Regions from separate parts of the Homo sapiens genome. Here region 2 is linked to region 1. Evidence: fine-mapped expression QTL. A gene starts in region 1. The other region holds a variant in brackets. All regions are shown on one strand. Distances are from middle to middle. Region 1 holds the start of BRPF3 (bromodomain and PHD finger containing 3). Region 2 has its middle 34 kb from the start of PNPLA1.

The links. PIP is the estimated chance that this variant, and not a neighbour inherited with it, causes the effect.
Region 2: its variant is the best candidate, but not a certain one, in a credible set for the expression of BRPF3 in lung (TOPMed, PIP 0.70).

What each region holds. Positions count from the first base shown.
Region 1 is chr6:36,194,629-36,199,628 of GRCh38, forward strand. It overlaps BRPF3 (bromodomain and PHD finger containing 3), which reads left to right and starts at 2,116. Exons shown (of 13, transcript NM_015695.3): 1 at 2,116-2,342. It overlaps BRPF3-AS1 (BRPF3 antisense RNA 1), which reads right to left and starts at 2,575. Exons shown (of 3, transcript NR_187147.1): 1 at 1,409-2,575. RefSeq lists a silencer at 1,731-2,470 and an enhancer at 2,821-2,870.
Region 2 is chr6:36,233,311-36,238,830 of GRCh38, forward strand. No RefSeq gene overlaps it. Among named protein-coding and RNA genes, the nearest start is that of PNPLA1, 34 kb to the right of the region's middle. RefSeq lists an enhancer at 2,140-2,685. The variant C/T (reference allele first, on the strand shown) is at 2,623.

The DNA of each region.
Region 1 (5,000 bases):
AAATTTGTTTTTAATAACATAATTGTTCCATGTTACATTTAAGATTCCATCACAGGGAACTGGTTACGTGTGCAGTTATGCTTGTAGAAACCAATTCCAAATGTCAAAAATTAAAGTGAGGGCAACTGTAATGATATCATTAAAAAAGTAGAAGTTGAAAATGGAAGAGAAACACTTAGGTTGAATAAGGTCTTAATATGAAAGCTTTGAATAGAAAAACCTGAAAAAAATCACATGCATTAGGTTGACTTAAGGCCTTTTCAACAGCATTTAAATCGTTGACTTACAAGTAGAAACCAATGCATTTTCTCAAGGTATTTATTCATTCATTTTAGTGGAAAAAGATAGCTCCTGATCACGCAAATGGGAATTGTGCTAAATAAATTTTGAGAACATCCATCAAGAAATAAAAGTTACTAGTCATATGTATAAATGATTATTATATTTCATGTTTTAATAGTTTCTGTTAGTTTTCAGACTTTTTTTTTCTTAACTACAAGTACTGTAATTGCAATATTTTCTTGCCTCTGGGGCTTTCTCTTCCACAATTAATCATCTTTTTCTTCCACACCTTCCCTCCAAATGATTATTCCCCCTAGCTTCAGAACACTTGACATTAATTCATACTATTTCATCTTCACAGCTTTCAAAACATTGTCCTGCCCTTGCTTAGCTCCACGAGCCACCCCCCTTGCATTTAAAAAATTGGTTAACAGAAGCATTTTTGTACTATCTCTTTGCCAGAAGATGCTATTTACTTGGAAACAAATTAGCTTCCTTAATCAAACTTTTGAATTTGAAACTCTCTATATTTAAATTCCTTAGTATAACATCTATACTTCCAAAGTAGCAGTATGTTCACTTTAAACATTCAGAAAATTTGGATCCTAAGACTTTATCCTTCATCCTTCTGACTCTAGAATACATGTCCTTGATCATCAGAACCAAGAAAGAAATTGAGTCTCACCAGCTACACCACAAGTGCCAGCAGAGGAAACACTTTCAAACTGTCACTCACCTTCACATTTACAGGCAGCTTATCCATACGTCCTTTATAAACATCATTATGTATTGGTGCTTAAGACTTCAGTCACATGAGGTAAGCTTTCCAGTTTACAGGCAAAAGGGGGTGGCAATGGAGCCCTTTTCTTTATTTTTTTGTTTTTTTAGATCAAAACAAAAGCCAGTTTGGTCTGATGCTGCCATTTGTCAAGCATCTTTTAGAAAGCCGCCTAATGCATTAAATTAACCAAGTCAGGTTTAAAGTGTTTCCCATGCCCACAGTGACAGACGAGTTACCAGGCATGCTTAAGCAGACTGTCAAACTTTTGTTTACTCCTTTTAAACGGAAAGTCAGATTTTTTTTTTTTTTTTTTAAAAGATGTGTGGTGCGGAACAAGACGCTCACCTGTACACAACAAAGGCAGGTCTTTCCCGGCTGTCCTCACTGGGGGAGGGGATGGACAATCGCTAGACCTTTGTCCTCAGGTCCTGGGCATGGGGGTTAGGGGAGACGCGACTTTCTGGGAGTCGTGCAGGCACCTGCAGTCAAGAAACTACATATTGGTTTTGACCTCAATGACTGCCCTGGCTTAACCTTTGGAGAGGCCCTTTAGTTCGGGGAGGGGGCTTGCTGCTCCAAACCGTAGCCACGTCACCCACAAGGACTGGGGAGGAAATGACTGACCGCTCAAGAGTCAGGGACCCCTGTCTCTCCCAACTAGACCCGAACGTCCACAGCCCTCTTATCGGGCTCGCCCCGTGGCGGGCAGGGCCGTGGTGCGCAGGGATCGCGGCGGGCGCAGACCCGGTCTCTTGCTCGGTGTCCCCGCCGCGCCCGCACCGCCACCGTGAGGCCGAGCCGGGGATGGTGCCCCGTGGCGGCGGCGGCGGCGCCTCCGCGCTCCTCTCCGCACCGCCCCGGCCGCCGCCGCGCCAGGCACGGGCGGGGGGATTTTTTTCCCGTTTCCCCCTCTTTCGCGCTCTCGCTCCTGTTCAGCGGGAGAGCCCGCAGAGTCAGGGAGGGAGCGAGGGAAGGGGTGGAGGTGGCGGGGGGAGGCCGGAGGGGCGGATCCTGCCTGGGGGCTGATCCCTCCCTCCCCTCGGCCGGGCTCCGTGGCGGCAGCGGCAGCAGCGGCGGCTCCATTCCCCCTCCTCCCCCGGGAGCGGCGGCGGCGGCCGGGCCGGGGCCCCAGCGCGGGCCGGGAGGGGGCACGGCGGAGGCCACGGAGGCAGGCGCGGGAGAAGACCGCGCTCCGCTTCCCGGGCCGCGCCGACCTGCTCGGCGGCCTGCCCGCCCGCGCCCAGGGGCCCCGAACGGTGGGGCCGGGCAGGCGGCTGAGGTAATGGGGGCGGCAGCGGGGCCGGACAGAGCGGGGGCGGGGGCATCGGGGCCTTCGGGGACCAGGGACTGCACGGGGGGAAACCGGAGAAGCGGGGGGCTTTCCGAGCAGGGCGGGGGCGGTGCGAAAGCTCTCTCCTGGAGCGAGGGCGGCGGCAGGGAAGGAGAAGGCGGGTGAGCGGGGGAGCTGAGAAGCGAGGACCCCCTCCCGCAGCCGCCATCTTGTCTCCCCCCCCAGCCCTGGATTCCGAGCCGCTAAGCCCCGCCCCCGCCACGCCTTCCAATTGGCCTGGCCAGACGAGAGTCCCGCCCCTTGAGCGGCCCTAGGTCCCCTGGGTCCCTCTGACGGGCAGGTGACGCAGCCAATGGGTTCTCGCCTCTCCGCCCCGCTCATTCGCTGGCGCTCGCTTTCTCTGTCTGAGGGTCGGACTCCACGTCAGGCTGTCTCTGGTGCGCTCGCCCCTCCCCTCTGAGGAGATGTTATTTCCCTCCTTTCTTCTCCGAGGGGTCAAGATTCTTCTGGAAGAGGTGCCCCCTTAAAGGAGCAGGAGCCTTGGCTGGGGTCCTCCTTGTCTCCTGAGTATCTTGTGTGAGGTGCAGGGGATACAGTCTAATTGCAGAAGCTCCTCATTCTTCGGGGACCTGGATGGGGTGGGTGAGCGAGGGGTCAGGGGGTGCCGAGGGGAAATCTGGGGGGGCGGGGGTTGTTGGAGATATTTTGGAGGTGTGTATGTGGGAAGGGCTGTGTAGGTTGAGAAACTCCCGCCAAAAAACTCGTCTAGACTGTAAGCTCCTTGTGGGCGAAACTCTTTTCATTTCCCTCATCAGCAGTCCCTTCCCCCTCTAGAGTTTCTCCCCGGTGTCTGGAGGCGTGGGTGGGACAAAACACGTCTGTGTAGAGTCTTGCATGGTCGAGAGATGCTTGAGCAGCCGAGGAGGTGGCAGGTGGGGAAGGAGAAGATGGAGCGGCTTTCATGAAAGTGGGCGCCGCACCGCCTGTCTGCGCTGTTTGGGGTCGGTGTGGAGGCAGATGTTCTCACCTCTTCTAGGGCCTCGGTGCCTTTGGAGGGGTGGGTGATGAAGCAGGTCTGTTGGCCCTGTCTGCCCCCAGGGACTTGGCATTTGTAAGGAATCCAGTAGCCAAGGGCCTCTGGAACCCGGACAGAATTGCTGCGATGATTCTGTTTCCTTTGGCTCCAAATGGGGTGTGTGCCAGCCCGCCTGGCACTGCTCCTCAGCCAAATTGGTTTTTTGTTTGTTTCAGTCACACTTTGGGATTGGAAGGCCTTTCAAGTAAAGATGTTAATAATACCTTATTAACAAGTAGCACCTAGAGAGCTAGATTGTGTTACCCTCATTTTACTGATGGAGTATGGAGGCATAGAGAGCTTAAGGGACTTTCTCTAGGTCACAGAGGGCCAAGATTAGAACCTAGATTGCCCCAGAGCCTCGTTTTGTACCAGACCATAGCACCTCTGTGGTGTTCTTAATTCCCACTGAGAGGAATTGAGCATCGGAAGACCTGGGTTCAAATTGTAGCGTTATCACTTACTAGCTTTACGTTGAGTGACATCTTTCTGAGCTTCTGTGTAGATGATAATAGCTACACCATCTCCTAAGGTAGTTGTGAGAAATATTAAAAGTAAGAGGGCTTTGTAGTTTGGAAAAAGTGCTTTTATTATCACCGTCTCTACTTTATATAGATGGTAGACCCTGCAACCAAGGCGATGAATTGTTTTTCTCTTTGAAATCTTCTCTTTGTTCATATCCTTCCAAGTCTGCCCACACCATGGGGCCCTGTATCCCCAAAGGTCTCTCCTGGTGGTGACAGCCTTGGTAACTGCCTACCGCAGCTCCTTATGAGCTTGTCATCCAGAGAATGATGGGGGAAACTAGGACTTTCTCTTGGCTGTACAAGGATAGACTAGATATGAGTGTTCTGGGAGAGACTTTTGAGGTAACAGAATGCATTGAGAGTTTACCTCAGATACTGCCCAGATCATCTTGGCCTTCGGTCGAATGAAGGTCCTAGACAGGCCACTATAACTTCAGAGATCTCTTGGAGCCACTCTCAGAGCTTCTAGGGTTTGTTTCTGCCTGGAAATGTACTAGTTGGTGTATCCTGGATCAGGGGTTCCCAACCCCCAGGCCGCAGACTGTGGCCTGTTAAGAACCAGGCCATACAGCAAGAGGTGAGTGGCGGGCAAGCGAGCATTACCACCTGAGCTCTGCCTCCTGTCAGATCAGCGGCTGCTTTGGATTCTCATAGGAGCGCGAACCCTACTGTGAACTGCGCATGTGAGGGATCTAGGTTGCATGCTCCTTATGAGAATCTGACTAATGCCTGATGATCTGAGGTGGAACAGTGTTCACCACCCACCCTCATCTGTGGAAAAATTGTCTTCCACGAAACCAGTCCCTGGTGCCAAAAAGGCTGGGGACTGCTGTCCTGGATGGTGTCTTTTGTAGGGAATACCCTGCATACTGTAGTTTGAAGCCCTTAGACCATGTATCATAGATATTTCAGATGCCTTCACCCCTTCACCTCTAGGCAGGGTCAAGGAGTAGGGTTTCTGATCGTGGTAAGAGGTATTGGGAGAAGACTCTAGTGACTTTTGATCCTCTGATGGGGCCCATTGTTCACGTACAGAGCTTGACA
Region 2 (5,520 bases), 39 kb after region 1:
CCCTGTGGCCATGTTCCTTTAGGAGCCTCTGCTCCTCATTCAGAAGGAGAGTGACCCTTTGGACACACCTGACTTACCAAGCTTGCTGAACTTGAGACTCAAGGATGCTCACACCTCTTATGTCACTGCTGCTGTTTTAATTCTGTAGATGGGTAGCTGGGACACACACAGGGGAATATAGGCCTCACTCCTCTTAAAGCTGGAAGGCATCCTTAAGCCTACCTGGTCTTCATTTTACAGACAAGGAAACAGACCAGCAAAATTAAAAGACCAAGGTCAGCCAACTAAGAAACTGTGGCATAATTCTGAGACAAGGATCTGGCCAAGGCTTTGTTTATGGGCTCCACAGCATTTCAAGACTCCACTGGCCTATTCTGTATCGTGTTCCTCTCTCAGTGGCTGTGGCTCTGGCATTTCTGGATAGGAATGTCCTGAAGAGCAGAAGCAGAGGGGAGTTCCCAGAGACAAACTGCTTGGTTGCTGGGCATAGAATAGCTTTTCCCCTGTCCCTACTCCTATCCCATTCTGGTCCTACCTGGCTCCTATGCTTGTCTCGGTGTGGCTGAGGACTCGGGTCTCTTGATCACTTCCTCCACGGGGCCTTTGACAGCCTTGTCATTGAAGTCAAAAAAGTGTCAAAGTTCTCATTTTGGCCTAACACTGACAAAGTACTGCCAATGTGCTGATAATCCTTGTATTACGTGTTGGGGCTGCAAAGACACACACCCCTGGTCTCAAGACACTCACAACCTGATTTATAAGATACATCTCACATAACGCCGCATAAGGCCAGTGTGAGGGTCCCAGATATGTGGAGGCGTTTGGGAGAGACATGTTTGGTTGGGGAGTAATGAAAGCCTTCAGAAGCAGCAATTAATTCAAGCCTTGACAAATGGGGTTAGGAAAGACTTTATTTATGAATTGTAAGTTGAATTACAAAGACGTTTGCAAAATATTTACAAAATATTTAGGGTGAAATTACAAGCTCATTCTATAAACCATTTTAGAAATAAAAGTGGCCAGATGGGTAGGATTTTAGCAGGCGAGGCTAAGAAGAGGAGACAAAGTCATGGCTCAGAAAGAGATTGTGCATATTCCAGCTCCAGTGACTAGCTGACCTCCCACGTGACTGGAACCCACCGAGGTGGCGAGCAGTATATCGGGCTTAAAAGCCCTGTCACTGTCACTCACTCTGTGACCCTGGGCCTCTCTGAGACTGACGTAATAAAGGATCCCAAAGACAGGGCAAGGTGGGTGCCATTCATATATGGCAGGTAGCAGCATCCATTGAAAGATTTGAACAGGGCAGAGACTTGATTGGAGCTTGGCAACTAACTAAACATCAAAGTTAAAAAGCAAGAGTGTTAAGACAGGATGCTGGGTGGCTGCTGGAGGGATCGCTGTGGGTTTTGAAGGGAGGAGAAAGTGTAGGTTTTTTGATGAGTTTGTGTTGTCTATGGGACATCTAAGAAAAACCTCCAGCAAACAGATGGGAGTTGAGCCCAGAATTCAGGAGAAAGATGGGAGCAGATGACAGAGATGTGGGCACAGTGGAGCCCACCTAGGCAGTTAGAAGAATGGCCAAGGACAGCAAGGAAGGCGAAGGACAGACATGAGGAAAGCCCCTTACACTTAGAGTCTGGGGTTGGGGGAAAGGGGGAGACAGCACCTTTTGAGGGGTCTGTTCTCCAGGGAGGGCCTCACAGGGAATGTCAAGCCCTCATGCCACAGATGGAGGAGAAAGGCAGGTCAGATGTGCTTAGCATCACAAGGCAGGAAAAGGCAGGGCTGGACCAGAACTCAGCACCCACTCAGCCCTTTCTGCTCTCCACGGACTTATATATTACCCAAAGTAGGCAAAAGTGTCCTTAATAAATTTTATCAATGATGTGACTGAAATTCATGAACTCAAGTCTAAAATGATACTGTAATATTGGGACATGTGTTGGAGACACTCTGACTCTCGGAATAGAGAATCCCATTCTCCTAACAAGTTAAAAAATATCATTGAAAGCATTTGCCAAAATCCCTTGTCAGCTTGGCTGCTTCCATTAATATATTAGATGCCATTAGCACCTGAGTGTGAATGTGCCAGTGCGTCAGATGGGCTCTCCTGACCTGGCTAGGCTCTGAGTTTCACTTTTAGAGAAGAGGTGGGGCTAGTGGCAAGACTGCCAGGCTCGGAGTAGTGCTGAAGGAGAGAGGGAGGGTGTGGGCCTTGACTACCCTGAGTCTGCAGGCCTCCCACAGTGTCTGCAGTCGGGCAATGAGTGTGCAGGTCTCTGGTCCTGCTGGCTGCAGCCTTCTGGCCTCTACTGAAGCTGGGATGAGGGAAGGAGGTCTTTGGAGGAGGGAAGTGGTTTCTCCAAAAGGTGGGGCAGAAGTTTCTTACTCTGTGATGAGGAAGAAGGGCCAGGGAGATACGTGCTGGGCTAGAGCTGGAGAGGAGTGCTGGATCCACCCTGGTGATACGAGAGAAGGGCAGGGAAGTGCTGGGTAGAGAAGAATGGGGTCCCTGGTGAGGGCTTCACCCTCAGGCCTGGTCCACGGACCTAGGTGAGGACAGGCACCCTTGTTTTTGAGCCCAAATGTTGCATTTTCCAAGACCACTCTGGCCCGCCA[C/T]GCCCCTGATCCTGGGCCCGTAAAAACCCCGAGACCCTAGCGGGCACACACACACAGCCGGCTGGAAGTCCAGAGAAGCAGAACACACCGAAAGGCACCAACAGATGCCGACAGGCTATCGACGACGCCACGATGACGTGAAATTTGGCACAGCGCGGTCGGAGTCCAGCTGCCGGGCAGCCCAATTCCAGGTGAAGACCACCTTCCCACTCCATCCTCCTTCTGGCCTCCCCATTCACCTCACTGAGAGCTACCTCCACTCAATAAAACCTTGCACCCATCCTCCAAGCCCACATGTGATCCTATTTTTCTGGTACACCAAGGCAAGAACCCAGGATACAGAAAGCCCTCTGTCCTTGTGATAAGGCAGAGGGCCTAATTAAGCTGATTAACACAAGCTGTCTGCGGATGGCTAAACTAGAAGAGCATAATGTAACACACACCCACTGGGGCTTGGGGAGCTGTAAACACTCAAACCTTAGACGCTGCAGTGGGGTCGGAGCCCACACTCCCCATGACCTGCCTGTCTGCATGCTCCCGCTAGGGGTTTGAGCTATGGGGTACCAAAGAAGTGAGCCACACCCCCATTGCATGCCCAGCGAGGGGGATAAGAGAACTTTTCCCATTTCACTGGCACCTGGGGTGACCTTCTGTCTGCCCTTTCCCTTCGAGGGTGGCAGAAGGTAATTGGGGATAGACGAAAAACGTCCGTGTGTGTGTGTGTGTGTGTGTGTGTACATATACATAAGTATTCTCTTCAACTTTAATAGGGCCAGGACTCACGGGCTACATGCAGTCAAACACTCTACTACTGAGCTCTACCCCCATCACAGGCTACATAGAGTCAAAAAAGCTAGTTGTCCCCAAATTTCAGAAGGGCCGTGGTGCTGTTTCTGAGAACATTTTATGTCCTTTGCTTGACACCTGTAAGGCTGGTTGGAAGAGGGTGGATTCAGTTGAACTCCTGAAGCCGTGTCTCAATCCCTTCCTCTTCCTTTCTGCCTAGTATTCGTCCGTTTGGGGGATAGAGAAGCCATACTGGGGATGCGACGTTGATGGTTCCTCATGGGCAGGGAGTATCACATAAGGGTCCAGGGGTGGGCTCCTTCCCTTCAGCTTCACAGTCCAGAGTGACGCCTGAAGGAGATTTTATCTAAGCTGGTCAGGAAAGATTATAAAATCCGTGGGGGTTTTTTGTATGTAATATGGGAAAATTTTTAAGTGCAAAGAAATTAAGAACTACCCTTTTTCTGACCACACAGAAACTACCATTTTAATGTAATTCCTTATAGTCTCTTGTTTTTTCTAGGTAGAGCATGTATTTTAGTTTCTTGTACTAGGTAGTTGAGTAGTCTGTTACCTCTCTGACATCACTGCGGAAATTCATGGTACGACTGGGATGCAAGTCCTCCCCACGCCTCCTCAGCCTAAGTCTGGCTTTTTCTCACTTGCTGTTGTTCATGGACTGGCCTAAACCAAGCATTGCCTGTTAGTTCCTCTGTTTTGTTAAAATACTGATAGTCTCCATAGCATTTGAAATTAGATGGGAGCTATATATCTTCCTCCCAACAACTTTGCTCTCTTGGGTAAATTTCCATGGAATTCAGTCCTAGACCAAATTCTGCCCCATGTACAAACATCTAATGAGTGAGGAAGCCACCATATGGCCATATAATTCTCCTCTTGATTGAGAAGTTCCCACCTCTGCTTTTGGGTACAGCCACCAGCATCGGGAACGAAGATCACTCCACAGCAGATACAACATGCTTCCGAGGTCAGGACCAGTTAGTGGAGTAGTCAGGTCAGGAGCAGGAGGAACAGACCCCGAAGTTTGAGTATTTTCATATTTTAGATATAGTTTTACATACAGTAACTCTGGGACACAAATCTTAAGATTAATCTCTATGAGTGTTTATATGTGTACCCACCCATGAAATTGTGATCCAAATCAAAATACAGAATGTTTCCAGTGCCCTAGAAGGTTCCTCATGACCCTGTCCAGTCAGGACCCCTGCTGCAAGTGTAACTACCATCCAGACTTCCATTGCTGTGGGTTAGTGTTGCTTGTTCTTGGACTTCACATAAATGGAATGACACAGCTTGCGCTCTTTTGTGTCTGGCTTCTTTCATTTAACATTGTGGCTCTGAGCTCCACCCTGTTTTGCATGTAGCTATAGTTTGCTTTTTGTTGTTGCTGAGTAATATTCCATCATCCAAACACACCACAGTTTGGGTATCCATTCTCCTGCTGATGGGCACTGGGTTATTTCTAGTTTAGGGCTGTTATAAATAACACTGCTGTGAACATTCTTGTACATGTCATTTGATGGACATAAGTGCTTGTATGTCCCAGGAGTGGAATTGCTAGGTCACGGGGCAGATATATGTTTAGCTTTAGTGGATTCTGCCAGTTTCCCATTTGGTGTTCAATTTATATCCCCTCCTGTATGAGTCTGATCTTGCACAGCTCCCCACCTGTATTAGTCTGATCTCGCACAGCTATAAAGAAATACCTGAGACTTGGTAATTTATAAAGAAAAGAGGTTTAATTGGCTCACGGTTCTGCAGACTGTATAGGAAGCATGGCTGGGGAGGCCTCAGGAAACATAGAATCATGGCGGAAGGGGAAGGCGAAGCAGGCACATCTTACATGGCCAAAGCAGGAGGAAGGGAGCAAAGTGGGAGGTGCTACACACTTTAAAATAACCAGATCTGAGAACTCACTATCGTGAGAACAGTAAGGGGGAAATCTGCCCCCATGATCCAGTCACCTCCCACCCGGCCCCTCCTCTAACACTGGGAATTAAAATTCAATATGAGATTTGGGTGGGGACACATATCCAAGCCGTATCAGAGTATAGTTGCTTCACATCTGTGCCAACACACAGTACTGCTGGT